3 separate regions of the Homo sapiens genome follow, and all the other regions are linked to region 2. Evidence: fine-mapped expression QTL. A gene starts in region 2. Each other region holds a variant in brackets. All regions are shown on one strand. Distances are from middle to middle. Region 1 overlaps LHPP (phospholysine phosphohistidine inorganic pyrophosphate phosphatase). Region 2 holds the start of LHPP (phospholysine phosphohistidine inorganic pyrophosphate phosphatase). Region 3 overlaps LHPP (phospholysine phosphohistidine inorganic pyrophosphate phosphatase).

Region 1 (9,738 bases), 140 kb after region 2:
CCCATGAGGCCAGGGCCAGCACGAGGAATTGCTGGGAGCGGTCCATCCACCCATCCGTCCGTCCATCCATCCATCCATCCATCCATCCCTATCCACCTGTCCACCCTGATGCAGTTCCTGCCATCCACGTGTCCATCTGTCTACCCGTACACCTGTTCATCCCCATCCATCCATCCCCCTGTCCATCCCTGCCCATTCATCCACCCTGATGCAGCGCCTGCTACCCACCCTTCTCTGTCCATCCCCATCCATCCATCTCTGTCCATCCATCTGTCCACCTGTCCATCCCCCTATCCATCCCTGTCCATTCGTCCACCCATCCACCCTGATGCAGCACCTGCCATCCACCCTTTTCTGTCCATCCCCGTCCATCCATCTCCATCTATCCATCTCTGTCCTTCCATCTCCATCTATCCATCTCTGCCCATCCATCCATCCATCCATCCATCCACCTGTCCATCCCCATCCATCCATCCCTGTCCATCCATCCACTCATCCACCCTGATGCAGTGCCTGCCGTCCACCCTTCTCTGTCCATTCCCATCCATCCATCCATGTCCATCCATCCATTCATTGCCCATCTGTCCACTCACCCATCCACTCATCCCACCCACCCATCCATCCACCCATCCGTCCCCAGCCATCCATCCTCCTGTCCATCCCTGTGCATGCATCATCCTTCCAACTGTCTGTTTGTCCATTCCCATCCATCTATCCACCCATCCACCCAGGCGAGCACCTGCCATGCCCACGACCTGCACCATCTCGGTGAATCTCCATCGTAGCCCCAGGAGGGGCTCTTTTCAGCTGCACTTTCAGGATGAGAGAAGGGAGGCTCTGAGTGGCCATTTGCCCAAGGTCACACAGAGCTCAGGGCCAGCGCTTCCCATGGCCAAAGCCCAGGCCCCCTCTGCCAGTCCCGCCTCCAGGCTTGCAGGTGGAGCAGCCAGGGGTTCCGTACTCCCTGCCAGGCAGCTGCCAGCCCTCCCCGCTCCCCTCTCAGTTCCTCAGCCTGGCTATGGGAGGCCCAAGTCCCACGTGTCACTGGAATTCGGGAGGCCTGGCTCTCAAAGCTTTCTGTACAAAACAAGGAGAAAAAGAGAAGCCACTTTTGCTGTCTGGACATGCTGTGGGTGTCCTGGGGAATGTGCTGGCCCACTGCTTGGGGCCTGACTTGGAGTGCCCAGGAGCTGCGTCTGCACTGTGGCTTGAACCGAGTGTCGTGCTCTGTGGACAGAGCCATCCACTCTGGGGGTGCTCGTCCCATGGCACTGTCAGCCCCCATTCTGGAAGGTCCCAACTGGGTCCCCCAGGCCTGTGTCCCAGAGACCTTCCAGGTCTTCATTCACTGATCATGCATTTATTTTGGGGGTAGGATAGGTCCTGAAGACCACAGGGCAGGGATCTCTGAGTTGGGGCTTTTGCGGAGTGAGGGAGTGAGAGGGTGTTCCAGGCAGAGGAGGTGGCAGAGAAAGGCACCAAGTGAGGCAGGGGCAGTTGGGGACATGAGTGCTCGGGAGCGGGGAGAGGGGGCAGCTGGTGGGTAAGCAGAGGCCAGCTCCAAGGCCCCCCTGTGGGCCACATTAGGGAGACAGGGTCTGGCCTTGTTGGTAGCGCGGCCCCTCGCAGTGATGGGTCCCCTGTCAGACCTCCAGGATCCTGGGTTGCTGGTTTGGCGCAGCCCCGGCTTCTGTGAGCTTTTGTTTCTGTTACTGGCACCTGCAGCTCTTCCTAGGCCCCTGCCCTGGGGCACTGGTGCCTGCTTCGCCAAAGGCACAGAGGGCTGCAGGCGACTGGGGCAGGGTGGGGGGCTCGCCTCTTAGGGCTCAGCTTCACTGGCCAGAAACAGGGCTGGCTCGATCTGGGTGTTGGCCTGGGTGGGGTGGCCAGCATGCCCACACCTCTCAGTCTGGATGTGGGGAGAGGTTGTTCCATCCAGGGCAGTTGGTCTCCAGAAGGAAATTCTCTGTATCTGGGTGCTGCAACCTAGGTGCCCGGGGTCTCACGCAGTGGGGCCTCCCCGGAGGAGGTGAAGTGCATGTGGCCCCTCGTGCTGGATGGAGCTGGACTCTAGGGAGGACCAGGAGGGTGAGCTCAGGCCAGGGCGCCAAGGCCCTGAGCCCCAGGGGCCTGCCTGTCTGCCCATCATTCCTCCACTCATGGGGAGGGACTGCCCCCCAGCCCAGATTTCTAGGAGGGCCGAGGCTCACAGGAAGCCAATGCCAGGCGATAACCCACAGTCCCCAGTGGTCAGTAGGAAGGAGGCTGCCTGCTTGTGTGCTCATTAGGAGCCAAGGCCATGAGGCCACTAACGGAATGTCCCTGATCTCAGGGATCTCAGTGTGGAGGTGGCAGCACACAGGTAACCAAACAATTGTGGCAGATTGATGGGTGCTTTGATGGGGTCCACACAGTTACCGTGGAGTGCAGAGTGGGCACCTAACTGAGGAGGCAAGGGTTGGAGGGAGGAAGGTTTCAGGGAAGACTTCCTGGAGGAGGTGACTTGTTCTTAGGGAATGAGGCCCAGGGAGCTAAAGCTTTAGGGCAGGGCAGCAGATTCAGAGACACCCCCAGGGGTAGGGGGAAGTGCACTAGAGTGACGTGTGCCTGGCGTGGGAACAGGGAGACATTAGAGAATAGTGGGAGTGTGGCAGGCTGGGCCCGCCTTGCCCCTTTCAAGGAAGCAGCTGCCGCGTCACACGCTGCAGCGCAGTGCTGCCCATGGTTTGTCGGCCCATATTGTGGGATCTTTCAGATTTTCTCAAGAAGCCAGGTTTCCAGCTCCTAGGTTTGAAAAGTTCTATGTGCGCTTGACCGGGGGGCCTTACGTACGTGAATTGGGTGAGGGCCTGAGACAGGCGGGTGAGCACTTGCCCCACACTCCAGCCAGGATTGGGGGTTCAAGGTACCGCATTTGCCACGTGAGGGAGTCTCTGGAGACCACCAACCCGCTGGTGGGCGGCCAAGCGTCACCACCAGTCCCTCTCAGTGCGTCCCACCTCTGTTCTCAGCCCCTGCGGTGCCCGCAGTCAGTGGGGCAGTGAGAACCGCGCAGGAAATAGCTGGCGCCATGGTGTCGGTTCTGGTTGACAGAGTGCCACCTGGCTAAACCCAGCCGTAAATAAGCCCCGTTTCCTCCCTGTGGACAGAGACTGGTGGGTGCCAAGGTTCACGGCAAAAACCCTTCCCCGCCAGGCCCCACTGCTCTCTGCCTGGCTGGCACACGCCCTTGCCTCAGGCCTGGCTCCCCGGGTCCTGTTGACCACCAGGCTGCAGATCCCAAGGAATGCAGGCATCTGGGTGGCCCCACGTGGAGCACCAGCCATGGGGAGGCCGTGGGCTACCAGGCCCTGCGTGCACTCGCAGCATGCACCACTCCTTCTCCAGGTCCCGTTGACCTCCATGTGTGCTGTGCCCCGTCCTCCGCTGCACTGCCTCTTCGTAGTGCCCCAGCTCCATCCGGGGGTGGGTGGGAGTGGAGACCCCTGCCTACAGGCCTCCGGGTCTAGCCAGAGTCAACCAGCCCACCAGAGACACCCAGATGCAGGCTATGCCCCACGTGCCCAGGGAGGATCTGCTGACGTGAGCCCAGATTTCGATTCTTGTGCGAGGGAGACGAACCAGGTTTAAACCCCAGCTCTGCCACTTCTGGCTGTGACTTTGAGCATGGCTGTTCATCTCTGGGGGTCTCTCTCCTCATCTCAGAGAAGCAGATCATGGTGCGCACCCCATGGCGCGCTGTGCAGAGCACATAGAGACGCCACCCACAGCTGGCTTACTGCAGAGGTGTGGGCCCATTGTGGTATCGCTGATGTCCTGGAGGCCACAAGTCTGCTAGCTAGAGGAGCCTCACCTGCATCCCGGGGCCTGCCCACTGGCTGGTGGAGAGCTCTGGGTTGTGGGCAGCAGGCAGGCCTATTTCCAGTGAGTCTGTGGCTCCTGGGGGTGTGTGAGACCTTGGGCAGATCCCTTCCTGTGCCTCGGTTTACCCACTAGGGCTCAGAGCCCTGGGGGACTGGCTCAGTGAGTGCCTCCTTCTGCGAGGAGAGACTTTTGTCCTTACTAGCCAGAGGACAGGTCAGCCGGGGCAGGCTCTGGGCCCTGGGCACCACCCACTGGAAGGAAAGGGGGTTCAGTTAGCCCAGCCCTGCCCCCCAATGGAAGAAAATTGGGGTTCAGTTAGCCCAGCCCTGCCCCACCCCAGCTCTTCACACATCCAGATCCAGATGGGGGCCAGACCACCAGGAGACTGTAAGGATCCAAGGCCGAGGGGCAGGAGACGCAGTGCGCCCCTCTCCTATTTCTGGGTTGCAACCGCCCACACATGTGCACACAGGGAAGATGTCTCTTTTGGTTGGGGGGCACAGGACCCCACCTCACTCTTAGCTCTGAGACACCCTTGTCAGGCCTCCTGGACAGGTGGGAGGGACAGGGCAGGGTGGGGTGTGGCCAGCTGCAGTCCCTGGGAGGGGTACTGGGGCTGGGCCAGGCCAGGGCAGGACAGAGTTGGGGAATCCAGGCCCCTCACCATTGCCCTGGCTCTTTGTATGTAGTGCTGCCTGCGGGCGGCAGCCTAGCTGGACACCTGCAGTGCGCTCATGCCCAGCCTCTGTGGGTGTCTGGCTCACCCCACGTGGGAGGAAGGCGGGCACGGGTGGTTTGGGCTGGGCAGGCCCAGCCCGGGTGCACAGCTTTCTCATCCACACACACATTCCATGTGTAGGGGCTCAGGGGGAGGGGTCACCTCCTCCCTCCCCACCCCTCCTTGTTACAGAGGAGCAGATGGCCAAACGGATGGGGGACAAGCACCTGACAGGGCCACTGCTCCTGCTCTCAGCTGGGCCAGTGGGAAAGGGAGCTTGGCACCTCCAAGGGAGGTCCCAGCCAGGGGAAGTGTGTCCCCATCCCTGCTCTGGTCCCCAGGCCAGAGAGGTGAGGGACCCAGAGAGGCCCAGGATGAGGACTCCTTCAGTCCTGGGTTTTTGTTTGGATTTTTTTTTTCTGCCAAGTGACTTCAAAGCCGCCCGAGAAGGTCCTGTATGTGTGAGCAGGTTGGGCAAGGGGAGGGCGGGTCTCCAAGCTGGGAGCCTCCTCGCGGCCCTCGCCTCGGCACTGATGTGGCCCTGGACCCTCCGGTCCCTCCAGGCCACCCTTCGTGCCAGGACCCAGCTGGCTTCAATGGCAGGAGGTGCCCTGGGCTGGAGGGTCCCCACGCTGGGCTCCGGGGCTCCAGGTTGACTCAGCAGTCCCCAGGCCTGTGGGCAGAGCTGGCCTGGGAGGACACGGGCCTGAGGGCTGAGCAATCCCTGAGTGAGAACAGGTAGCTGAGGCTGGAGCCTGTGTCCCCCAGGCA[G/C]CTGCTAAGGCCCGGGCCTGGGGCTGGAGTGCTGGGCTCAGGTGCCATGTGAGCTCTTTGCAGGCAGGGACCAGGTCAGAGTCCTTTGTGTGCCTCTTGACCCCCAGGTCCTGGGAGAAGAGGGGCTTGGGAGGCCTTGGCTGGATGCACAGGCTCCATGGGAAGGAGCTCCTGCTCGGGTTTCTTTGTAAGCAGCACGACATGGCACCTTCCCAGAGGTACATGGGTCTGGGCATGTCATTCCCCGACCTGCTTCCAGAACCCAGGGGACGGAGGTCGGAGCAGCCTGCCTGAGATCTGTGGCCATCTCCACTCCGCCACCCAGCTACCCCGTAAGGAGGCCACCGACCCTCGGGCACCTGCCAGGGACCCAGCTCAGGCCAGGTCACGGGCTGGATGTGGGATGTTCTGGGCCTTCTGCCCACCTCACTGGGCCCCAGCAAGCTGCTGTCCTGAGGGTGGCCGTGCTGGGCCAGCACGTGGACAGCAGGGAACCCCATGGGCACAGGCCTAGTGTGTGTGATGTACCGGTGCAGACCATCTGATAAGCAGCCTTCAGAGAAGCTGCGGGTGTGCAGGTGGAGGCAGACCTCCCAGCTGCATCCTCCAGGCACTTGCCAGGGTCAGGCTCTGGTGAACACCCTTCTAGAAATAACCCCCCAGGCCCCCGGGGGTCTTGGGCTCCTGGGGTTCTGATGGAAGGATGCCCCTTGCCCGGCCTCACTACCTCCACCTCATGAATCACCCTCTGTCCTTGTCCTGCAAGTCTGTCGGCACAGCCGAGCTGGCGTCACCCTCTGATGCCAGTGCCCAGATCCCTGAATTCACTGGGCAGCCGCCCCCTGCACCTGGCTCCCAGCCACTGCCTTTCCAAAGCAAATGGGGACAGGGATACCTGCCCCTCCCTGGGTAGGCAGCTGTTGCGGCCTCCAGTTGTGAGAGTCTCTGCCCCACCCTGCCCCTTCCCCTGCCCCTGCAGGGTAGAGAGGAGGCGGGTGGGCCACCGACTGGGAGTCCCGGGCAGCTCAGGTCCCTCAAGAGCCCCTCGGGGAGAGGCCGCACCCGTCTCCCTTGGTCAGTGTTCCCCAGGAGGCGGTGCTGGCCTGCGTGTGCCCTGGAGGAGGCGGCAGGGAGACTGGCCTCATGGGGCTCTTTTGCTGGGGCCTGGCCACCATTTTCCTTCGATTGGTACAAAGACTGTCCCTGTGAAGCTGGCCAGGCCCCAGGCACAGAACCGCCTTGTTTTCTGCCTCTCACTCACCCGTTCCCTGCATTCGGCTGACAGAGCATGAGGGGGAGGAATCACTGATGACAGGCACTGGCCTGCCCAGCTGGGGGCCTTTGTTTATTCATTTGGTGGGCACTTCCTGGGTGCCTGCTCTGGGTCAGGCCTGTGGGGGGGACCACCGAGGGCAGGAAACCTGGCCTGTCCCTCCAGGAAGCGAAGTCAACACTGGCACCTGCAGATGAAGTGGCAGAGCAGCCCCCAGCTTTGATGGCATGGGGTGGTTGGAGGGCACATTCTGCATGCTCAGAAGAGAGAGCAACTCGCCCTGTGGAAGGAGCATACAGTGGGAGATGGGGACAGGTGAGTGGGGTCTTGAAACGTGAACAGGAGTTTGCAGGTGGAGCAGGTTTCAAGAGCATTCCAGGGCACAGCATGGGCAATGGCAGGGAGAGCTGGGATGTCTGAAGAGCAGCAGCCCAGACACTGAGTGGCTGGCGAGGCGAGGGAGGTCCGCAGGTGGGGCCCAGTCAGGATGGACTCATCTGCCATGCTGAGGAGCCAGGCTATGATGTGGGCAATAGGGAGCCACAGCAGTTTACACAGGGGAGGCGGGAGCAGCTGAGCATTTAGGGAAGCCACTCTGGCTGCAAAAGAGGAGAGGGGGCCAGGCAGGAGGGAGAGCCAGTGGAGGGGGAGGGGGAAGGGGAAGGGAACAGGCTTCAGCAGAAGACCTCCTGCCTTCAAGGGGCCCGGGTCACCCTGTGGGTTCCGGTGGTTAAGGCCAGCCTCCTGGTCCTGCAGCCACATGCCTCCCAGCTGTGTGCCTCCGCTTCTACCTCCGAAACCCGGGCAGCAGGACCCACCCTGCAGGCTCCTGCGCAAGGATGGGGGAGGTACCTGGAGGGCCCACCCCACATCAGAAGCAGGTCCTCAGCCAGAGACGCCCAAATGCAGCCCGAGGGAGGCTGCCCCCAGGAGAGGAGAGGAGAACCCGCAGCCGCCCCGCAGGCGCCTGGGGAAATCACTCACTGCTCCCACCTCCCAGCCAGGCCCCGAGGGCCAGGCACTCTGGCTTAGTGAAGAAGCCACCCAGCAAAGGCCTGGTGTCTCCACACCATTCTCGGGGGGACAGCAGCAAGGACGATGGACGGGAGCAGTGCTCAGCCTTAACGTCCCTGTTTCCGGAAGCGTCCCTGCCCCGCTCAGTCCTGCCCCACTCCCTCTCCCATCAGTGCCCTCAGACTCCAGGCCCTTTTCTTTCTTTCCCAGCAGTGCTGACAACTGTGAGTGTGGAACTGGACTGTGAACCCTGGAGGGCAGATGGTGGAGGTGGGAGGGGGCAGGGCCAGCGCCAGGGTGAGCTGCAGGGTCCCCAGGTGCAGGGGAAACGCCAACTTCGTGTGCAGTCTTGCCTCTTTTGTTTCGTTTCAGAGTGGCCCCCAGAGCCAAGCCCTATGCTACCTTACAGATGAGGAAACTGAGGCTCGGGCAGGTGAAGAGACCGGCCCTGGGCCATGCACTTTTTTGGGGACAGAGCAGGGTGCTCAGCTGTCTGGGGGCCTGGGCTGGGCCTGGGGCAGGGGGAGGAGCAGCGCTGTGACCCCCACGGGGAGCCGTCAGCCAGGCCCGTAGCCAGGGAAGGGCGGAGGGGCTTAACGCAGGCCCACATGGCCAGGACACAGAACCGTGGGGGCAGCCCCAGCCCTTCCCTGCCTGTTACAGGCCCCTGCCCCTGTTCCTGTGTCCCATGCCTGTCCCCTCCCTCCATGTGTCTGTCTCTACTCGCCTGCCCTCTCTCTGCCCTCTTTTCTCTGCTTCATCCTCTTTTTCCGTTTCTGCCTGTCTCATGGTTCTTCCTGTCCCTGCCCTCCCTCCCTCCGTGTGTGGCCGTGTCTCTCTGTCTGTCTCTTCCTCCTCCTCCAGCTCTGTCCCAGTAGGGCCACTCCGGGCAGGATGGTCTGCGGCCCCTCCTGCTTCACCCTCTCCGCTCTGTACCCACTGCCGAGGACACACCTTTGCTGGGTTTCTTGGTTCAGCTTTTGTACCGTGACATCTCTGAGGTCCACAGGTCACAGGGCACTGGCCAGTGTGGGGCAGGGACTCCTCCTGCCCAGGCCATTGGACAAAGCAGAGCTGCTTCAGGGGCTTTGGGGCCACCAGGCCAGGAACAGGTCCCCTCCTGCCTACCCCAGCTCCCTGGGAGACACAGCCCACAGCAGCGTCACGTAATTAAGACATAAAAGTCCACGATTTCCGCTGCGTGTGGGCAAACACCGGCCGGGTGCTAATGCAATCCTTTCTTTTAGTGGATTCTTGAATTTAAATGATATGTAATTAAACATAATTAGCCACGGACGCCATTCGGCTAGGTACACGTGCGGAGTGGGGCTGGCCGGATTCTCATTACAAAGCGTCATCTTCTATGGGGAGACCTCTTGTTCCCTCTCGGGGCTGGTTGCTTTTGCCTGGACAATAAGCCTGGCCCCAGGGCACCTGGGGAAGGTGTCCAAGGAGGGGGTCCTGGGGGCCAGTCCCCCGGGGGCTCGGATGATGAATCATGGGCGGTGTTTGCTGGAAGAATTTTTGTTCCGCTTCGGGCAACAAGGAACCCAAACCTCTCACTGTTGTGGGGAGAAAAGTTGGAAATCAGATGGGAACTGGCTGCGGTACCAGAGAGGACGTCAGACCCGGGCCGCGGCCTCAGCCCCCGACTCCTTGTAAGCGTGGGCTGGGTGCACACGTGGCGGCTGCGAGCAGTGCTTTGGAGCTCATCTCCCCAGACCCTAGTGGGAGCTGAGGGCAGCCTGGCAGGGCTGATGCAGGCCCATGCACACAGGCCAGGCAGAGGTGAGACCAGGGAATAGAAGCGTTGCAGGGGCAGAGGGCAGGAGGGGGCAGAGCCTCGGCGTAGGAGTGAGCCTACTGGTCCTTCCCGCAGGCACCCTCCCTAGTGCCAGGTCTGCTGGGACTCCAGGCTGTTGGTATGCCCCCTAGGGTCCTGCTTGGAGCCTTTCTGACCCTCCTGATCCAGTGCCTGTGCCGGGCTTCCTCCCCACTCACCCTGTCCTCCCTGTGCCCCATGTAGCCCACACATCAGTGTGTCCGTCCGTCTGCCTGTCTGCCCCCCACCAGCCTGTGTGCCCAGGGGAAGGCTCAA
Region 2 (9,738 bases):
CTCTCTCTCTCTCTCTCTCTCTCTCTCCCTCCCTCCCTCCCTTCCTCTCTCTCTCTCTCTCTTTCTTTCTTTCTTTGAGACAGAGTCTCGCTCTGTTGCCCAGGCTGGAGCACAGTGGCGCAATCTTGGCTCACTGCAACCTCTGCCTCCCAGGTTGAAGTGATTCTCCTGCCTCAACCTCCCGAGTAGCTGGGACAATAGGCCTGTGCCGCCACGCCCAGCTAATTTTTACATTTTTAGTAGAGACGATGTTTCCCTGTGTTGGCCAGACTGGTCTCGAACTCCTGACCTCAGGTAATCCGCCCGCCTTGGCCTCCCAAGGTGTGAGCCACTGTGCCCGGCCTGAGAAGCATTTCTGTTATTAATGGTGCTCTGATTTTTTTTTCCACTATAGCCCATCTCAATAAAACAGAAGATTCTTTGGCTCATATGGCCCTCACTTGGTCTGGTCTCACTTTCCAGGGAGATGGGATTTGATAATAAGAAAGGTCTTGGTGACTGGTGGGCACCTGCTACTTTTGCCTATACCATGTTGCTTCCTTATTCCTCTTTCACAGTGCCCTGCTTTTTTGCTTTCTTTTCTCTCTCTTTTTTTTTTTTTAGAGAAGTCTTGCTATATTGCCTAGGCTAGGATACAGTGGCCATTCACAGTTGCAGTTGCAGTCATGTACACTATAGCCTCCAACTCCTAGGTTCAAGTGATCTTCTTTTTTTTTTTTGAGATGGAGTCTCGCTCTGTCGCCCAGGCTGGAGTGCAGTGGCGTGATCTTGGCTCAGTGCAACCTCCGCCTCCCGGGTTCAAGCGATTCTCCTGCCTCAGACTCCTGAGCAGCTGGGATTACAGGCGTGTGCCACCACGCCTGACTAATTTTTGTATTTTTAGTGGAGATGGGGGTTTCACCATGTTGGTCAGGCTGGTCTTGATCTTCTGACCTCGTGATCCACCCGCCTCAGCCTCCCAAAGTGCTGGGATTACAGGCGTGAGCCACCACGCCCAGCTTCAAGTGATCTTCTTGCCCCAGCCTTTGGAGTAGCTGGGACTTCACGTATGTGCTGCCACGTCCGGCTAATGCGCCCTGCTTTTTGCTGGAGGGCTTGTCCTCTCCCTTTCCTTCTGGTCATGGTGGGACTATAGGCAAGTGTCCCACCTCCAGCCCTGGTAAGGGCACCAGTCAGGCTGGAACATCACAGTATCACTTCCATTGGAACACAGACAATGGGGGACACTGACCCAAGAGAGCCAATCAGAGTTCTTTCTGGAACAGCCAGACCAAGTTGAGGAAAAGGATCCTCACCAGGTGGTGTACCGGAGACTCTGTGAGCCCAGAGCTGATAACCAGCCATGCCTGACGCTGTCCATTGCTAGACTATCTGGTTGTGCGAGCCAATAAATTCCTTTAAATTGAAGCCATTTGAAATTTGGCTTCTGTCACTGGCAGCCGAAGAGTCCTGACTATGACAAGCAAATCTGAAAGGATGAGGCATATGTCTAGTATAGCAATAGATGGTTGATAGATTCATAGTTGAGCTGAAATTCAGACATGAGTTGTAGATTTGCTATAACAGGCTGAAAGCTCAGTCAGTGGTGTATGCTTCCTGGCACACTATGGTGTTCATGTGCCACCTGGCTAGCTCTGGCCCAAAAGATGCAAATGAGAGTCCATTGGATCAGGGTTCTGGGAAAGCTTTTGCTTTCTGGGTATAAAGGGTCAGACTCAGCTGTCACATGCCCTTTTTTCTTTTCTTTCCCCTCCTTCCTGCCTGAAATGCAGTCATGATGCCTCGGGTGGAGCAGGAATCTTGCTAGCGTGAGGAGCAGGCCACATGCTGAGAGAGTGGTGGAGCAGAAAGCAGGAGGCAGCCTGATGGTCCTGGGAGCTGTTGTCCCATCCAGGATTTCCTCCCTCTTGGCTTCTTGATATATGAGGAAAAGTAAAATCTGATTTGGTTGGGCAACTATGGCTGGGTTTCTGTTACATGTAGCCAAATGCAACCCTAACATAGACAATGCCCTACACTCATTGCATCCCAAGAAAAGCCTGGAATTTTCAGATCAAGTTTTAGCCTATCAGTGGCCCACACTTAGAGACTTGCCACATTTTTCAGGTGAGGGACCTGGATCCCTGTATTTGTTTCTTGTCACTACTGCAAGAAATTACCATATACTTAGTGGCTTAAAACAACAGATTTATTATTATAGTTCTGGAGGTAAGAAGTCCTAAACTTGAAGTACCAGCAGGGCTGCATTCCTTCTGGAGGCTCTAGGGGAGAATCCAATTCTTTGCCTTTTTTAGCTTCCAGAGGCCACCTGCATTTCTTGGCTCATGGCCCCTTTGTATTCAAGGCCAGTAGCACGGTATCTTCACACCTCTCTCTCTGACCTCTGCTTCTGCTGTCACACCTCCTTCTCTGACTCTGACTCTCTCCTGCTTCCCTCTTTCCCTTATGAGGACTCATGTCATTATACTGGGCCCACCTGGACCATCCAGGATAATCTCCCTACAGGAGCATAGGCTCTGCAAGATCTAAGTCCCTTTTGCCATGTCAGGTAATATATTTAGAGGTTGTGGGGATTGGGAGGTGGACATCTCAAGGGGGCACTATTCTGTCTACTGTAGTCGTAGAAATGAAAAGGGACTTGCCCAAGAGTACCCACAGAGCTGACTGAAAAGAAACAACTATGGGTAGGCTCACACCACTGGCAGAAGCACCCCTTTTCCTCCTCCTTGGCATGAAGCTAAAGCCCAGCCATTCTCCAAGGTCCATTTCAGGCTGCCCCTGCCCAGAAGCCACAGCTGCCCTCCTAGGCCTGCAGAGGTCATCCTCTTGACTGTGTCTGTGTCACTCATTGCCACTTGGCACACATTTGGTCAGCAGTCGTGAAGGTCTTCCATTGTTCTCTGCCCAGTCTTGATCCTGGAAGGCAAGGATCACACCCTAGAACTTTTTTGTGCCCACTGCACAGAGTAGGGTCTCAATACGTGTACGGTTCATGATGTTCCTAGCAGATTCTCCAAACTGACTCACTCAGCCCCTGGAACACTAAAAACTGCATTTCCCAGACTCCTTTGCAGCGTGGGCTAGGTTCCACCAAGCCAGACACAGTGAAAGTGAGTGGGTGGCCACAGGTGGAGGGCACAGTGGTGGATATGTTTTGTTCTTTTGGGGGCAGCTATGCTGGGGGCTGCACTAAGTGATGGGGCAGTGGTCCCAATGGAGTAGTAAAATTAAGTGTTTCTCGTGGCTGCATGGCTCCTGGCTGTGTAGGACTTAGACCCGTCATCTGTAAGCTCCTTCACCTCATGTAAACAAAACCCCTCTAGCTGGAGTGGTGTCTATTGTCTGCGACTAAGAACCCTTATATAAGGTATACTACTCCCCAACCCCATTAGTGGAAATCCCAAAGGGTAGGAACTGTATTTTATTTCACTTGTAAACAGCTCCCCTAGTAAGCATGTCAACAAAATATACACAATTCATTGAACCCCATAACATTTCAACGAATTCCTCATCCTTTCTGTGAATCAAGAGCCTGAAAAGAAATGGTGAAATAATATGATCCTCTCTTCTTTGAAAGCTCAAAGCTATGTTGGACCAGAAGTAAAGTGTTCTCGTTTCTATTTAATAACTTGAAAGGTTCCGAGGGGCCATTGAGGAAACTCCTCCCTTTTAATATCAATGTGTATTTATTGCAAAAATAATGTAGCATCGAGTGGTATTTTATAGCTTATCCAAAAACCTCCTGGGTTTAACGCATTGTGATAGTCCCGTTTTCTTCTCAGCCCAGGTCCTATGCATCCTCATCTATGCAGGGCTGTTATCTGCATATAATTTTTTTTTTTTTTAAGACAAAGTCTTGCTCTGTCGCCCCGGCTGGAGTGCAGTGGTGCAATCTCGGCTCACTGCAACCTCCGCCTCCCAGGTTCAAGCGGTTCTTCCGCCTCAGCCTACCGAGTAGCTGGGACTACAGGCATGCGCCACCACACCTAGGTGATTTTTGTATTTTTAGTAGAGACAGGGGTTTCACCATGTTGACCAGGCTGGTCTCGAACTCCTGATCTCAAGCGATCCACCCGCCTCAGCCTCCCAAAGTGCTGGGATTACAGGCATAAGCCACTACGCCCGGCCTCAATTTTGTATTGTACTTTTTCTTTCTTTCTTTAATAGAGACAGGGTCTCACTATGTTGACTAGGTTGGTCTAGAACTCCTGGGCACAAGCTGTCCGCCCGCTTCTGCCTCCCAAAGTGCTGGGATTGCAGGCGTGAACCACCGCCCCTGGCTACAGGTGCCTTCTTGTCTCAATTTGCCTTTGACCTTTCTTAGGGACTTGTTTTCTGCTTTTCCTGCTCTTTGTCCGCTGATCTCCTGGGAAGAAAGCTTCCGAAAAGGACACCGTTTCAGGGGCGAGTGACGCCGGGGTGCCCAGGCCGCGCCCCAGTTCCGGGTTTGCACCCGGTCTTCTTGCCCTGCCCCGCCCGCGGGACTACAGTTCCCAGGCGCCCCTGCGCGGCCGCGGCGCCGGCGCCGGCGTCGGTTGGGACGCGGAGCTGAGGAGCAGGGCCGGGCGCCATGGCACCGTGGGGCAAGCGGCTGGCTGGCGTGCGCGGGGTGCTGCTTGACATCTCGGGCGTGCTGTACGACAGCGGCGCGGGCGGCGGCACGGCCATCGCCGGCTCGGTGGAGGCGGTGGCCAGGTGAGTGGGCCCCGGGACGCCGCTGGGGCCGCCGAGCTCTAAGCTCAGCCCGCTCCCTGGCTGCCGGCAGGGGGCGGGGCGGCAGGGGGCGGGGCCGCGGCGCAGGCCCCGCCTCGGTCTCCCCCTTCCCACCCCGGTGCGCGCACAGTGCTGACCACGGACGACCCCACTGTTGCCCCCGGCGAGCACCAGGACTCTGCTGGTTAGGGCTGCGCGGTCAGACAGGGCGGCCACCTGGTACGTGCGCTGCTGAGCGCTTGACCTGCGGCCAGTCTGAATTGAGATGTGCTGTAAGCGTAAAATGCATACCGATTAACAAGACTTAGCCGGGCGCGGTGGCTCGCATCTGTGATTCTAGCACTTGCAGAGGCAGAGGAGGGAGGATCGCTTGAGGCTAGGGGGTTGGAGACCACCCTGGGCAACATAGGGAGACCCCGTCTCTGCCAAAAATTTAAAAATTAGCCGGGTGTGGTGGTGCACGCCTGTAGGCCCAGCCACTTGGGAGGCTGAGGCAGGAGGATCGCTTGAGCCCAGGAGGTCAAGGCTACAGTGAGCTGTGATCACCCCACTGTACTCTAGCCTGGACTGCAGAGCGAGACGGTCTCATAAACAAAACCCCCAAAAACACCAGACTTCGTGAGTAAAATGTAAAATAAAAACATGAAAATGGGTTATGTTGTTTGCCTGTTGAAATGATATACTTTTTGTTTGTTTTGTTTTGTTCTTTTCAGATGGAGTCTTGCTCTGTCGCCCAGGCTGGAGTGCAATGGCACGATCTCGGCTCACTGCAACCTCCGCCTCCCGGGTGCAAGTGATTCTCCCCCTTCAGGCTCCCGAGTAGCTGGGATTACAGGCACCCGCCATCATGCCCAGTTACTTTTTTTATTTGTTTTGTTTGAGACGGAGTTTTGCTCTTGTTGCCCAGGCTGGAATGCAGTGGTGCAATCTCTGCTGACTGCAACCGCCGCCTCCCAGGTTCAAGCGATTCTCCTGCCTCAGCCTCCTGAATAGCTGGAATTACAGGCATGTGCCACCACACCCGGCTAATTTTTTGTATTTTTAGTAGAGACGGGGTTTCACCATGTTGGGCAGGCTGGTCTCTAACTCCTGACCTCAGGTGATCCACCTGCCTCGGCCTCCCAAAGTGCTGGGATTATAGGCGTGAGCCACATGCCCAGTTGATAATATTTTTAATATACTGTTTTAGGTTAAAATATTTGAAATTAAGTATACCTTTTTTTTTTAACTTTTGTTAATGTGCTTATTAGAAAACTTTAAATTACCTTTGTGGCTCTCATTATAATTCTGTTGGACTGCATTGGTTTAGGTGAGAGGAGGAGGAAGAGAACATCGTGCCAGCCAAGACTTGACCATGAGGACACTTTTTTTTTTTTGAGACAGTTTTGCTCTTGTTGCCCAGGCCGGAGTGCAGTGGCGCCATCTGGGCTCACTGCAACCTCTGCCTCCCAGGTTCAAGTGATTCTCCTGCCTCAGCCTCCCAAGTATCTGGGATTACAGGCACCCGCCACCACGCCCAGCTAATTTTTGTATTTTTGGTAGACATGGGGTTTCACCATACTGGCTAGGCTGGTCTCGAACTCCTGACCTCAACTGATCCACCTGCCTGGGCCTTCTAAAGTGCTGGGATTACAGGCGTGAGCCACCGCACCTGGCTGACACTTTTCTTTGTATAATTTTTTTTTTTGAGACAAGGTCTCATTATGTTGCCAGGGTGGTCTTGAACTCCTTGGCTCAGGCAGTCCTCCTGCCTTGGTCTCCCAAAGTGCTAGGATTACAGGCATGAGCCACCACACCTGGCCTAATTTTTTTTTCTTTTTTTTTTTTTTTTTTTGAGACAAGGTCTTACTTTGCCACCCAGGCTGGAGTGCAGTGGTTCAATCTCACTGCAACCTCTACCTCAAGGGCTCAAGAGATCCTCCCACCTCAGCCTCCCAAGTAGCTGGAACTACAGGCACGTGCCACCATGCCCAGCTAATTTTTTTGTGTTTTTTGTAGAGATGGGGTTTTGCCATGTTGCCCAGGCCGGTCTTGAACTCCTGGGCTGAAGTGATCTGCCTGCCTCAGCTCCCAGAGTTCTGGGATTAGAGGTGTGAGCCACTGTGGCCAGCCAGAAGGACACTTTCAGTAGCATGGTTGGCACCACTGGACCTGGGCTTTGTAAGGCCTCCTGTTGGCATCCCAGGTCAGCACTGCCATGTGTTGATAGGCAGCCGGGAAGGGCTAACTGCCAGGACTTGGCCTCCCGGAGTCACTAGCTGAGGCACCCTGGCTTGGTAGCCTGATGTCACTGGGACTCAATATACCTATCTGTAGGTGGCAATTAACTGAGTCTCTTGGTCCTTCTTAGAGACCCCATTCTACCAATCTGCATGTCTGATGTCTGGGAGCTGCTGAGATAATAGGGACCCAAACGGTCCCGCATAGTGAAGCCGGAGGTGTTTGGGAGGCTGGGAACTGGGAACAGGGAGACTTGGCTTCCAGGAGCAAGCACAAAGGGCAGCCCAGACCTAGGACACTCCGCTGGGTCCTGGGTCTGCTCTCAGTGTTGGCTGAAGTTCAGGGTTAAGTGCATTCCTGACCTTATTCTCCATTACTCCAAAGCTTTAGACTAGCTCAGTCACAGATGAGAGCATTCTGTGAGTGGCACTGGTGGGAATCCAGCAGAGGGCTCTGGGCAGTGTTTTGGGGTGAAGTGGGCCTCATCTGGGGAGCAGGAAGCCAGAGCTCAATGCTGTGACTGGGGCAGGCAAGGCCTCATGGGAGACCCTGCCACTCATTGCTTGCGGAAGATACATTTGACATTATCTACCAGTGGTTCCACTTCTGAGAATTTGTCCTTGTCTCATGCGTGAGAAATGACATGAGTACAAGGTCATTCCTGGCAGTACCTTTTAAATAGCAAAAGACTGGAAACAGCTCAGATACCCATCAGTAGGGGAGTATTAGGGTCTGATGTGTGGAGGGGAGAGGGACAGTAAAGCTGCAGGCACACAGGTAAATCATCCTCACAGGTGGGCACACGGGTAAAGCGCATCATCACAGGTAGGCCTAAGGGGTGTGAAGACGGGAGGGTACTGAGAGTGTGATGGACGAGGGTGGCCTGTGCTAGAGAGGGGGTCGGGACAGCTCTGAGGAGAAGGCACTGGACAGACCCGGAGGGATAAGAGGGAACTGTCTGCAGGAAGAGGCGGAGGAAGCGCATTCCAGGCAGAAGGAATGGTAGCTGCAAAGACCTCAGGAAGAGAGCACTTGGCGAGTTCGAGGGCGTGGGGTGGGGGAGTGGGTACACCAGGCAGGAACTTGAGGGGCACGGAGAGGTGTCCGGACTTTATCCTGAGTGGCAGGAAGTCAGTGAAGACTCTAGATAGGCATATCATGTGGTCTGATTTATATGTTTTAAAGAAATACAAATGTAAAAAGTGAGACATACAAGTCAAATGAAAGCAAGGGAGATTTCCTTTGAAACCTTGGAGAGAAGGCCTTTACATCCAGGCCTTGAAATCTAGAAAGCAAAAACAACGAACAAGCAGCCCAATAGCAATATGAGCAAAAGATGCAAACAGGTCATGGAAGAGGAAGTGAGAGAGGCTCCGCCTTACTCAAATAAGAGGTGTGTGATCTCGGCTCACTGCAGCCTCTGCCTCCTGGGTTCAAGCCACTCTTGTGCCTCAGCCTCCTGAGCAGCTGGGACTACAGGCATATGCCACCGTGCCCAGCTAATTTTTGGTATTTTTAGTAGAGGCAGGATTTTACCATGATGGCCAGGCTGGTCCCGAACTCCTGGCTTCAAGTGATTCACCCACCTTGGCCTCCCAAGGTGCTGGGATCACAGGCGTGAGCCACTGCGCCCAGCCTGAGAAATGCAAATTAAAACTATATCAAGCTGCCCTGTTTCATCAATTTGACAAAATTGGCCAAAATCCAAAAGTTTGAGAACACTTTCTCTGTGAGAGTTTGTGGAAACAGACCCTGCCACACATTGCTTGCAGAAGATACATTTGACATTATCTACCAGTGGTTGCGCTTCTGAGAATTTGTCCTATCTCGTGTGAGAAAGGACACAAGTACAAGGTCATTCCTGGCAATGCCTTTTAAATAGCAAAAGACTGGAAGCAGCTCAGATATCCATCAGTAGGGGAGTTTTAGGGTCTGTCTGTTTATACAGCAGAATAACATGCAGTGTAAGAAGGAATGAGTACCTTGTCTATAGACATATTACTAGTGGAGACAGCAAGCACACAGCAGGATGCACGGTGCGCTGTTTCTGGTATAGAAAATGCAGAAATGCAAGAATGTATTTCTCCTGCTGTGTTTGCATAAAGACACTGGAAGGACGCAGGCTGCTTCAGAGTCTGGGAAGAGCTGGAGGATAAGGAAAGTGGGGGCCACTGTGTGGTTGGAGACAGGGTAGGAGAAAGACTCTTCACTGTATAACTTTGTATACCAACGTTTTTGTTTTTGTTTTTGAAACAGAGTGTTGCTCTGTCACCCAGATTGGAGGGCAGTGGTGCAATTTTGGCTTACTGTAACCTCTGCCTCCTGGGTTCAAGTGATTATCCTGCCTCAGCCTCCCGAGTAGCTGAGATTACAGGCACCTGCCACCATGCCTGGCTAATTTTTGTATTTTTAGTAGAGATGGGGTTTTGCCACATTGGCCAGGCTGGTTTCGAACTCCTGACCTCATGTGATCTGCCCACCTTGGACTCCCAAAGTGCTGGGATTACAGGTGTGAGCCACCGCGCCCAGCCTGCATATCATTTTTAAGATTTTTAAACTATGTGAATGTGTTTTCTATTCAAAATATTACAATTCAAATATTAAATTGAATATTAAAATTCAAAATATTAACGTCTGGGCACAGTGGCTCATACCTGTAATCCCAGCACTTTGGGAGGCTGGAGGTAGAAGGATTGAGACCAGCCTGGGCAACACAGCGAGACCCCCATCTCTACAAAAAATACAAAAATTAGCCGGGCATGGTGGTGCACGCCTGTAGTCCCAACTACTTGGGAGGCTGAGGCA
Region 3 (9,738 bases), 35 kb after region 2:
AACCCTTGTAGTCCCTTTTTAAACTTACACCCATTGCAATTTAGGTCGCTGCTATGGAGCAAGCCACAGAACCTGGCCTCTTAACTCATTTACCCGGGCTGACCCATTAGGCCTTTGAGTCACCAACACCTCACTAGAGAACAAGCATAATGAAGAAGCTCTGCTGTAATTCGTTAATGTTAACACTTTTTTCTTTAAAGATGTCTCATGCTGAGCTTCGTGGCACACGCCTATAATCCCAGCACTTTGGGAGGCTGAGATGAGAGGATGGCTTGAGCTCAGAGGTTCGAGACCAGCCTGGGCAGCATAGTAAGATTCCGTCTCTACAAAAAAGAAAAGAAAAAAAGTTGTCTCATAATTATTAAAAACCACTATTCCAGATCATGGATAATAATAGTCAGAACAGGTATATTGTTGAAAAAGAAAAAAAAAAACCGGAAGCAGTCGCTTTCAGCTTTGTAATACCGCAGCAAATGTCATAGTAGACAAGGGTTTTTTTAAAGTAGGAGATTAGTGGCGTCTCTGCTGATGGGGGTTCTGGGTGTTTAAAAACCAGAGAAAGGAACCGGCGGTTTTAGGGACTAGGTCCCAGCTTCTCAGGACAGCCTGAGGACCCCCCGAGAGCTGCCATCACCATGCCGTCCTCGGCTGTGGGTCACTGCTGGTGAGGTCCATCCTGCACTGCGGGACACAGGGGCACAGGCTGAGCGGTGCCCACCAAGGAGGCAGGAGCAGCGGGTGGAGGCGCCGGGGCAGACTGTCCCTCTCCTGGAAATGGAGTGATTTACATTTGGCATCTGTTTGGACCCCAGAGTGGGAATTGGCTTTGTAATTTCTTCTGTCATGCCGCTCTCAGAAAATTAAGCTGTTTACCCGACAGACTATGGAAGGTTAACGGCTCTTCTGGGAAAGGTCAAGTGGTCATTTGCAGGGAGGCTGTGCTGAATAATCTGAAACGGCAGAAGAATAAAGCATAAAATCGCATCTGACTCCTCCTCCCGGGCTTCCCCCTTTCTTTCCAGCATCCACGGGTTCCTCTTTGTGGCTAGAACATTCACGTCCTAAGTGGGGCTGCCGTTGGCTGGGTTAAACCAGTAACCAGTAACAGGAGAAATACGTCGCATCTCTAGTGTGTGGAGATTACCGGGCCTTTATATTAAAAAAAAATTTTAAGTGCTTATATTTGCTCTGTCTCTAAAAAATGTTTCCAGGTAACAGTTGGCCTCAAGATGCCTTTTTGTTTTTCTGAATGAATAAGGAATAAAGAAAAATTCTGGGCACTATAAAATCAAGCCCAGATTCAGTTTTTTAAAAAATAAACGTTAAAGTTTCTCATTTTGATTTCTGGAAGTTCGTGTTCTCCTTGGACTCTAAAGATTAGCATGCAAAGACAAGGTTTTGATTGTGTATTTTCAGTTGCACGTTCAGTTTTTTTAAAATCCCATCCAGGACTAAATTTAAACATAAGAAAATCCAGGTTTCTTTCGCTTTCGAAGAGGCTGCAGGGAACTTGAGGCCAGAGGAAGTGGCGCCGCGTGGGTCCCCTTAGGAGGTTTTGCCAGATGATGGGAGGTGCTTGCTCCCGTCCACCCAACCTCTAGCTCCTCCAGCCGGCCCCAGGGTAGCTGAGGGACAGGGGTCTGGGCCCAGAAGCCCCCAGAATCCTCAGCTCCAAACAGAGCTGTACCTGTCGCAATGGAGTAGTTTTGTTGATTTCAGGTTTTCTTTTGTTGCTGGGTAAGCATTTCCTGTGTGGGGTATATTCTTTCCTCCGTCCTGGCTTACTTCCACACATCACTTCATTAGGGAGGCCCTCCCTACCCACCTCGATGCCCTCCTTCTCCTGGCACAGGTGGGCAGGAGGGGACGAGGGTCATGGCCTTTGAGGGCCTGCAGAGGGCCTTGCCTGTGGTGGCGTGGCCACCCTGGTCCTCAGCAGGGTGCTCAGTGGATTCCAAGGTGCTCCCTGGACCCGGACCTCCCCTTCACTTCCTTTTAGCTCAGGTCTCAGCTTTCCATGCCTCTGCTGCCTCCCTGAACCCAGCCTGTCCCCCGCCCTGTTCAAGCAGACTGCCCCTCCCCTGGGTCCTGCCCTTTAAAGTTTGTCTGTGGGCTTCTTTGCTTCCCCACCAGACTGTGAGTCCCTGTGGAGCAGGCTGGGGCTGGGAGTATCCCTGAGTCCTGCAAAGGGCTGTGGAGCATCTGGGATCGTTAATGCCAAGGGGGACCAAGGTAACCTGGGCCATTTGCAGCACCAGCCAGTGCAGGCCCCAGGACCCGGTGTCCCCTCACTGTTTCCTGAGAACTCTGGACCCCACTAAGGAAACCATCAGACCAAAGTAGCTGATTGTCCAACTGGGAAAAAGAAAAAGCAGTACTTTTTTAGGCCATGTAAATGCAAAATATACATTTGAAGTCTGCGTTTAAGACATGAACTTAGAGATTTCTAAGCCTGTTTTTGGGGGTCACTCTAAAAGGGAGGGCATTTTCAGGTCCCCCCTCTGTGAGCATTCACAGCATCCCAGCCAGCCTGTATCCCTGTGCCGTGACCCCAGAGCACAGAGCCTCAGAGGCTGTGGAACAGGCCTGGGGTTCACGTGGAGAGTCCCAAGCCCACGTCATGACAGGAGATGCCCACACCTTCAACAAACAGACTCCAAGCTCCAAAGCTGCCTAACAGGAGTGGCAGGGGGACCAGCCCTGGCAAGGCCCAGGTTTGGCTGAAGCCCGTACCTGCAGCCCAGCTTGTAAGTTTAGCCGGGAAGCATCTGAGGCAGGCAGTGGAGGACGCACAGGGGTGAGCGGTTCATCTCACAGGTGTGGCTGGGTGCCTGCTACAGCTTCAAGGCATCAGGTGGGGCAGAAAGGGACAGGCAGGGTGCCCAGGAGTGGCGGAGCTGGAGGAAGGGCACAGCCCCAGGGCAGCTCCCGAGGAGCTCAGTTCTCACACCCCAGGTGGTCACAGAACACATTTCAGCCCCCAAATTGAACAGGGCTGTGTTCATTTTTTCCTTCCCCCAGCTCATCTTATTGCTTGTGTCAGCCTGGGTGAAAGGTTATTTATAATAATATTCTCCTGTCTCATCTGGGCAGCTTCTGCATGGAAGGTACCGAGTTAATAACTTTGCATGCGTTATTTTGTTCAAGCTTCACAGCAATCCGTGAGGTAGGTATTGTTTGTTGTTCGTTTTGCCCATTTTACAGATTAGGAAACTGAGGCCCACAGGCGTAAGCAACCCAAAGTCACACCGTTAGAAGGCAGTGAGATCTGAATGCTCAAGTCAGCATGCGCTCTTCTTCCCTCTCGTTTTCTGCATACGTGCTTTCTCCACGTCTCCCATATCGTAAGGGCATGGCAGGAGGAGAGGGAAACTGATGTGATGGTGGATGGCAAAACATTTTAGTGGTTCCAAGAATCAAGCCCCCTTGTGTATTCTTGGCTTTCAATGAACTGCGTCTTCAGAGCAGCGCAGGTTAAACCACTTTCTCGCCTCATTGTAGTCAATTGGCTTAGTTCAGCCAGAGCCAGGTCTGGCCCACCATGTGTCTGGACTGTGAGTGCCTTGAGGCTCAGTGTGACGCGATCGTAGGGTGAGCCTGGCCGGGCTGCAGCCAGCCACCAAGCCAGCCCTGGGCTCAAAGAGCAGTGAGGCCATTTTGAGAGAGGAATGCTCCCTCGTGCAGAGCCTGTCTCCACCTCCATGAGACGGGAAGGAACAGTTGTCTTCTCATAAAAGCATCTGGCGCCCATGAAACCTGGCACCTCGCTTGACCTCCGGCTAACGGGATGCGGCAGGGTGCTGTGGAACTAATGGAGTTCTCTTCTTCAGCCAGCAATTAGGGGTTAATTATTAGCAATTAGGGGTTCGCCACATACCCCGTGGACCTGCTGTTCCTTCCCAGGACACAGGTCACTTGTCATTCTCTGTGTTAGCAACTGAAACCGTCTGCCTTCTGGGTCCCCTGTTAATCATTGCAGCAGGGTCCCCACGAGTCTGACAGCAGGGTTGCGTTCTGTGCGACCTGTGGCATCCCTGGAGCTGCTGGCTGCTGCGCTCGCCCCACTGGGTGTGGCGGCCTGCCGCCCGGCTCTGTGGTGCTGGTCCCCTGCGGTCATTCTCAGCGTAGCGCCTGGACTGCCCCTCAGCCGCGGCTTGGCTCTGCAGCCAGCGGGACAGGCCCGGTGCTCAGCTCCCGATACTTAGCATCCTGCGGTCAGCTCCCCGTGCTCAGCATCCCGTGCTCCGTTCTGCTCTCTCCTAGGCGTTACTACAAGGAGACCTCTGGCCTGATGCTGGACGTTGGTCCCTACATGAAGGCGCTTGAGGTACCAGCCCTGGTTCTGTCCCAA[A/G]CTCTCTTCAGACCTCAGGGCACCTGGGACTTTTTGGGTCTTTGTTGAGAAGAGGCTGTGCTTAATTAACGTACAAATGGCCTTTTGGGCTTCCACAAAGGCTGCCTTCCTATTCTGGGCTCCCCTGGCCGGGCCCTCGGGCCCTCAGGCCCTCAGCTGTCCTCCTCCCTCCCCATCTCTCCCTTCCCATCCTTCCCATCCTCCCCATCCTCCCCATCCTCCCCATCCTCCCCATCCTCCCCATCCTCCAGTGGGCGCAGCCCCCCCTGCCCGCCGTGGACCCTGCCGCTCTCCCAGCTGCTCTCTGCCACACTCCTCTCGGGCTTGTGGCTTCTGTATCAGTGCTGACCACCGCTCTCATTCCTGACCCTGGGCATCTGCAGCACCTCAAGCTTGACGGGTCCTCACTGGCCTCCTTCCTGACTTCCCCTTCAGTTTCCAAGGCCATCTGTGGCCAGGCCTCCGGGTGGGGCTCCCCTGGGTCCACTCTGGCCCAGGTCCCATTAGCTGCCCCAGGTCAGCCTCACATCCCGTCCCATCCTCACAGCTGCAGCCCCTCCTGCCTGCCTGCCGTCAGGTGGGAGGGAGAGGCAGACGAGCAGATGGAGCCCTGTGATGAGCTGCGAGTGGGCAGGGGAGAAGAGGGGGAGAAGGGATGAGAGGACGGAATTGCAGGCGAGTGAGCAGAGCACTGCTCTGCTGGCCCTTGGGAGCCCTGTAGTTTTGCCAGCTCTTGGATGCCTTCTGCTGTGGGTAGGCCTTTGAGTGGATGGCAGGGTGCCTGGTGCTAGGGGACCTGAGTGACCCGGGCAGCCCTTTCTGGAGTTGTGAGGCTCCTGCCTGTGAGATGAGTTCTCAGGCCCACAGCATCCTGCTTCTTCAAGGCCCTTGACTCTTGGGGGCACATTTGGGACAGTGTTTCCGTGGCTGGGCATACACCTGTTCCTTGATCCCAAACTTATGCCATGTCCCTCTCTCTTTTCCCAGTATGCCTGTGGCATCAAAGCCGAGGTGGTGGGGAAGCCTTCTCCTGAGTTTTTCAAGTCTGCCCTGCAAGCGATAGGAGTGGAAGCCCACCAGGTAGGTTGGCGCCTTGTGAAGTGGGTCAGGGGAGGCAGCCCCGTCAGGGAGGCCCTGGAGCTTGGAATGGATTACAGGACTCAGGCAGCCTGTGGGGTTGGCCAGGCAGCCAAGCGTGGGCTCCCTGTGAAAGCTGACCTGGCTGGGAAGGAGGGGGAAGACAGCAAACGAAATCCACTGAATAGTTTCAACCGTGAAGTTACTTTCAGTATGAAAGCAAGAAGCAGAAATGCCTGCGGCTTTTCCTGAGTTTTTGCTGCTTCTCTGAAAGGATAAGAATTGACAAGTCCTATCAGTGTGTTAATATATCTCACTGGCAAGACAGTGTAACAGCAAGATTACAACAATATGGAGGAAATAATAAAGTCACTCATTTTGCGACCTTTATATTTTGACTATTTTGGGATAGATTGCCTTTCAAACTTCCAAATTTTAGAAAGGAAAAAGAATCGGTTATGATTTTATTGTCTACACCTACCCCAACCCTAAGTGAGTCTGGCTTCGTCCTCCAGTGGGTTTTCTTTTCTTTTTCTTTTTTTTTTTTTTTTTTTTTTGAGCCAATGTCTCCATTTGTCACCCTGGCTAGAGTGCAGTGTAGTGGCACAGTCATGGCTCACTGCAGCCTGGACCTCCCAGGCTCAAGCGATCCTGCCATCTCAGTGCCCCCTTAACCCCCTTACTAACCAGGCCCCCCCCCCGCCAACCCCAACTGAGTAGCTGGGACTACAGGTATATGCCACCACGCCTGGCAAACTTTTTTTTTTTTTTTTTGAGACAGAGTCTCACTCTGTCACCCAGGCTGGAGTGCAGTGGCGCTGTCTCGGCTCACTGCAACCTCCACCTCCTGGGTTCAAGCAATTCTTCTGCCTCAGCCTCCTGATGAGCTGGGACTACAGGTGTGCACCACCACACCAGCTAATTTTTTATTTTTAGTAGAGACAGGGTTTCACCATGTTGGCCAGGCTGGTCTCAAATTCCTGACCTCAGGTTATCTGCCCGCCTTGGCCTCTCAAAGTGCTGGGATTACAGGTGTGAGCCACCATGCCCAGCCCCGGCTAACTTTTGTATTTTCCATAGAGATGGGGTTTTGCCATGTTGCCCAGGCTGGTTTTAAACTCCTAGCTCAAGCCGTCCTCCTGCCTCGGCCTCCCAAAGTGCTGGGATTACAGGCATGAGCCACCAACACACAGCCCCCTCCAGCAGGTTTTCTGAAAGATTGTAAGGAATAGTGGGCAGCCGGCATGGAGGCTGACGCCTGTAGTCCCAACACTTTGGGAGGCTGAGGCAGGTGGATCACTTGAGGTCAGGAGTTTGAGACCAGCCTGGCCAATGTGATGAAACCCCATCTCTACTAAAAATACAGAAAAACAAAAAAAATTAGCTGGGCGAGGTGGTGCATGCCTGGTAATCCCAGCTACTTGGGAAGCTGAGGGATGAGAATTGCTTGAACCTGGGAGGCAGAAGTTGCAGCGAGCCGAGATCATGCCACTGCACTCCACCTGGGTGATAGAGTGAGACTCCTTCTTTAAAAAAAAGAAAAAAGAAACAGAGTCCACAGCTGCCCCAGGCTGTCCTGCTGCCTCCTCAGAAGTGGGCAGCAGAAGCATGGGTTGGGGGTCCCTCAGGTGTCAAGCCTGGTGCATGTTTCCCCTGTGTGCATTTCGGTCCAGAACACTGGTGCCTCATGGTGCTTTGAGAAAGATGGCCCAAAGCTGCCAAAATCTAGACACTGCACCTGCACCTGCCCTGAGATCCATAGAGATGTCAGAAGATGCAGGCTGTCTGGAGTCCCCAGAAAACACCTGGGAAATGTCACATTAGTCTGTTGAGAAGGAAAGGTTTGTGTTTTGAATGAGTGAGAACTGCAGCAATAAATAACCTGGCTTTTTACTACCTTGCTTCATAGGGCAGAATTTCTTTTTTTATTAGAGATTTCAAACATACAGAAAAGTAGAGAGAATGATACAGACACCCCATTATATCCATCATCCAGCTTCAGTGGTTAAGATTTTGCCACATTCCTTTCTTCTATCCTCTTTTTTTTCCTTTTAAAAAATTTACTGGCTGGGTGTGGTGGCCCACGCCTGTAATCCCAGCACTTTGGGAGGCTGAGGCAGGTGGATCACCTGAGGTCAGGAGTTCAAGACCAGCCTGGCCAACATGGTGAAACCCCGTCTCTACTAAAATATAAAAATTAGCCGGGTGTGGTGGTATGCACCTGTAATCCCAGCTACTCAGGAGGCTGAGGCAGGAGAATTGCTTGAGCCCAGGAGGTGGAGGTTGCAGTGAGCCGAAATTGTGCCACTGCATTCCAGCCTGGGCGACAGAGTGAGACTCTATTTCCAAGTAATAGTAATAGTAATGATAATAATAAATTTACTTATTTTTTTGCTTCATATTTTAAAGCAAATCTCAATTGTATCCTTTCATGTTGTAGCATGACATTTAAAAATCACGATTTTTGGATGTAAATACAATACATTAAAACTCCTAACATGGCCAACAGGCATACAAAAAGATACTCAATATCATCATTCATCAGGAAATGCAGATCAAAACTCCAGTGAGATACCACTTCACACTAAGATGACTGTATAGTTAAAAAAAAAAATAGAAAATAACAAGTGTTGGCAAGGATGTAGAGAAATTGGAACCCTTCTCTATTGCTGCTGGGAAGGTGAAATGACAATGCTGCCACGGAAAGCCACTTGGTGGTTCCTCAAAGTTAAACATAGAATTTGCCGTATGACTCAGCAACCCATTTCCAGGTCTATACCCAGAAGAACTGAAACACGTGTTCAAACAAAAACTTGTACACAGATATTCATAGCAGCTCCATACACAATAGCCAAAAGGTAAAAAAAGCCAAGATACCTGCCCATCAACTGATGAAAGGATAACCAAATGTGGTATGTCCATACAGTGGAATATTATTCAGCCATAAAGAGGAATGAAGTTCTGACACATGCTACAGTGTAGATGAACCTTGGTAGCATTATGCTAAGTGAAGGAAGCCAAACACAAAAGGACACATATTGTATTCTTCCATGTATAGCAAATGTCTAGAATGGGCAAATCCATAGAGATGGAAAGGAGATTAGTGGTTGGCAGGGGTCGGGTGCAGGGGAATGGGGAGTGCAGCTTCAGGGTACGAGGTCTCCTTTTGGGATGATACAAATATTCTGGAACTGGGCCGGGCACAGCAGCTCACACCTGTAACCACAGCACTTTGGGAGGCTGAGGAGGGTGAATCACTTGAGGTCAGGAGTTCGAGATCAGCCTGGCCAACATGGTGAAACCCCGTCTCCACTAAAAATACAAACATTAGCCAGACGTGGTGGTGTGCACCTATAATCCTAGCCACTCGGGAGGCTGAGGTGGGAGAATTGCTTGAACCCAGGAGGTGGAGATTGCAGTGAGCCGAGATCGTGCAACTGTGCTCCAGCCTGGGCGACAGAGCCAGACTCTGTCTTAAAAAAAAAAAAAAAAAAAAGAAAAATATTCTGGAACTGGACAGTGATGATGGTGGCACGACGTTCTGAATGTGCTCGATGCCAGTGAATTGAATACTCTGGTCACGGTCATAAATTTTATGTAATGTGTATTTTACCACAATAAACATTTTAAAACCACCTAAAAAATTAACAGTGATTTTTGTTAGTATTATTTAATAGCAACCCATATTTAAATTTCCTTGACTGTCTCAGAAATGCTCTTTTACCGTTGATCTGTTGGAATCCAATCTGAAGAAGCTCCGTGACTTGTGTGTCGTTTTTATGTTTTCTGAGCCTCTCTTTTTAGCCCTCCATCATAGAACATTTGAAATATCTATGTCAGTAGAGAGGGCAGCTCAGGGAACTCCTAGGTACCCATCACTGTGCTTTAATAATTATCAACTAATAACCACTTTAAAATTGTTTTCAACTTTTCATTTTGAAGTAACTTGACACTCACAAAAAGTTGCAAACATAGTACAAAATGTTCACGTGTACCGTTCAGCAGCTTCCCCATCATCATCGAGCAGTGATAAAACCGGGAAATCAACACTGGCACAAGGCGGTTAGCTAACCTAGAGAGCTTATTCAGACACCACCAGTCATCCCACTCATGGCTTTCTGGGGACACGTTGCATGTAGCAGTCATGACCCTAGTGTCCTTTATCTGTGAACTCTGATCACCTGTTGAGGAGGTGTCTTCCAGAGTTCTCTACTGTCATTGCTATTTGTCCCTTTCAGTAATTATCTTTTTTTTTTTGAGACGGAGTCTCGCTGTGTCACCCAGGCTGGAGTGCAGTGGCGCTGTCTCAG

Evidence for each region.
Region 1: its variant is fine-mapped to the expression of LHPP in B cells (Fairfax 2012, PIP 0.95).
Region 3: its variant is fine-mapped to the expression of LHPP in whole blood (INTERVAL, PIP 0.96).

Annotation. Positions count from the first base shown.
Region 1 is chr10:124,598,575-124,608,312 of GRCh38, forward strand. The region is part of intron 6 of LHPP (phospholysine phosphohistidine inorganic pyrophosphate phosphatase); the gene reads left to right. Among named protein-coding and RNA genes, the nearest start is that of FAM53B-AS1, 100 kb to the right of the region's middle. RefSeq lists an enhancer at 7,323-8,267. The variant G/C (reference allele first, on the strand shown) is at 5,354.
Region 2 is chr10:124,457,293-124,467,030 of GRCh38, forward strand. It overlaps LHPP (phospholysine phosphohistidine inorganic pyrophosphate phosphatase), which reads left to right and starts at 4,531. Exons shown (of 7, transcript NM_022126.4): 1 at 4,531-4,695. The coding sequence starts at 4,571. RefSeq lists a silencer at 4,411-4,870 and enhancers at 6,387-6,887, 6,888-7,388.
Region 3 is chr10:124,492,698-124,502,435 of GRCh38, forward strand. LHPP (phospholysine phosphohistidine inorganic pyrophosphate phosphatase) reads left to right here. Exons shown (of 7, transcript NM_022126.4): 4 at 4,264-4,327; 5 at 5,339-5,431. Among named protein-coding and RNA genes, the nearest start is that of LHPP, 36 kb to the left of the region's middle. RefSeq lists enhancers at 2,503-3,080, 3,081-3,658, 3,659-4,236. The variant A/G (reference allele first, on the strand shown) is at 4,352.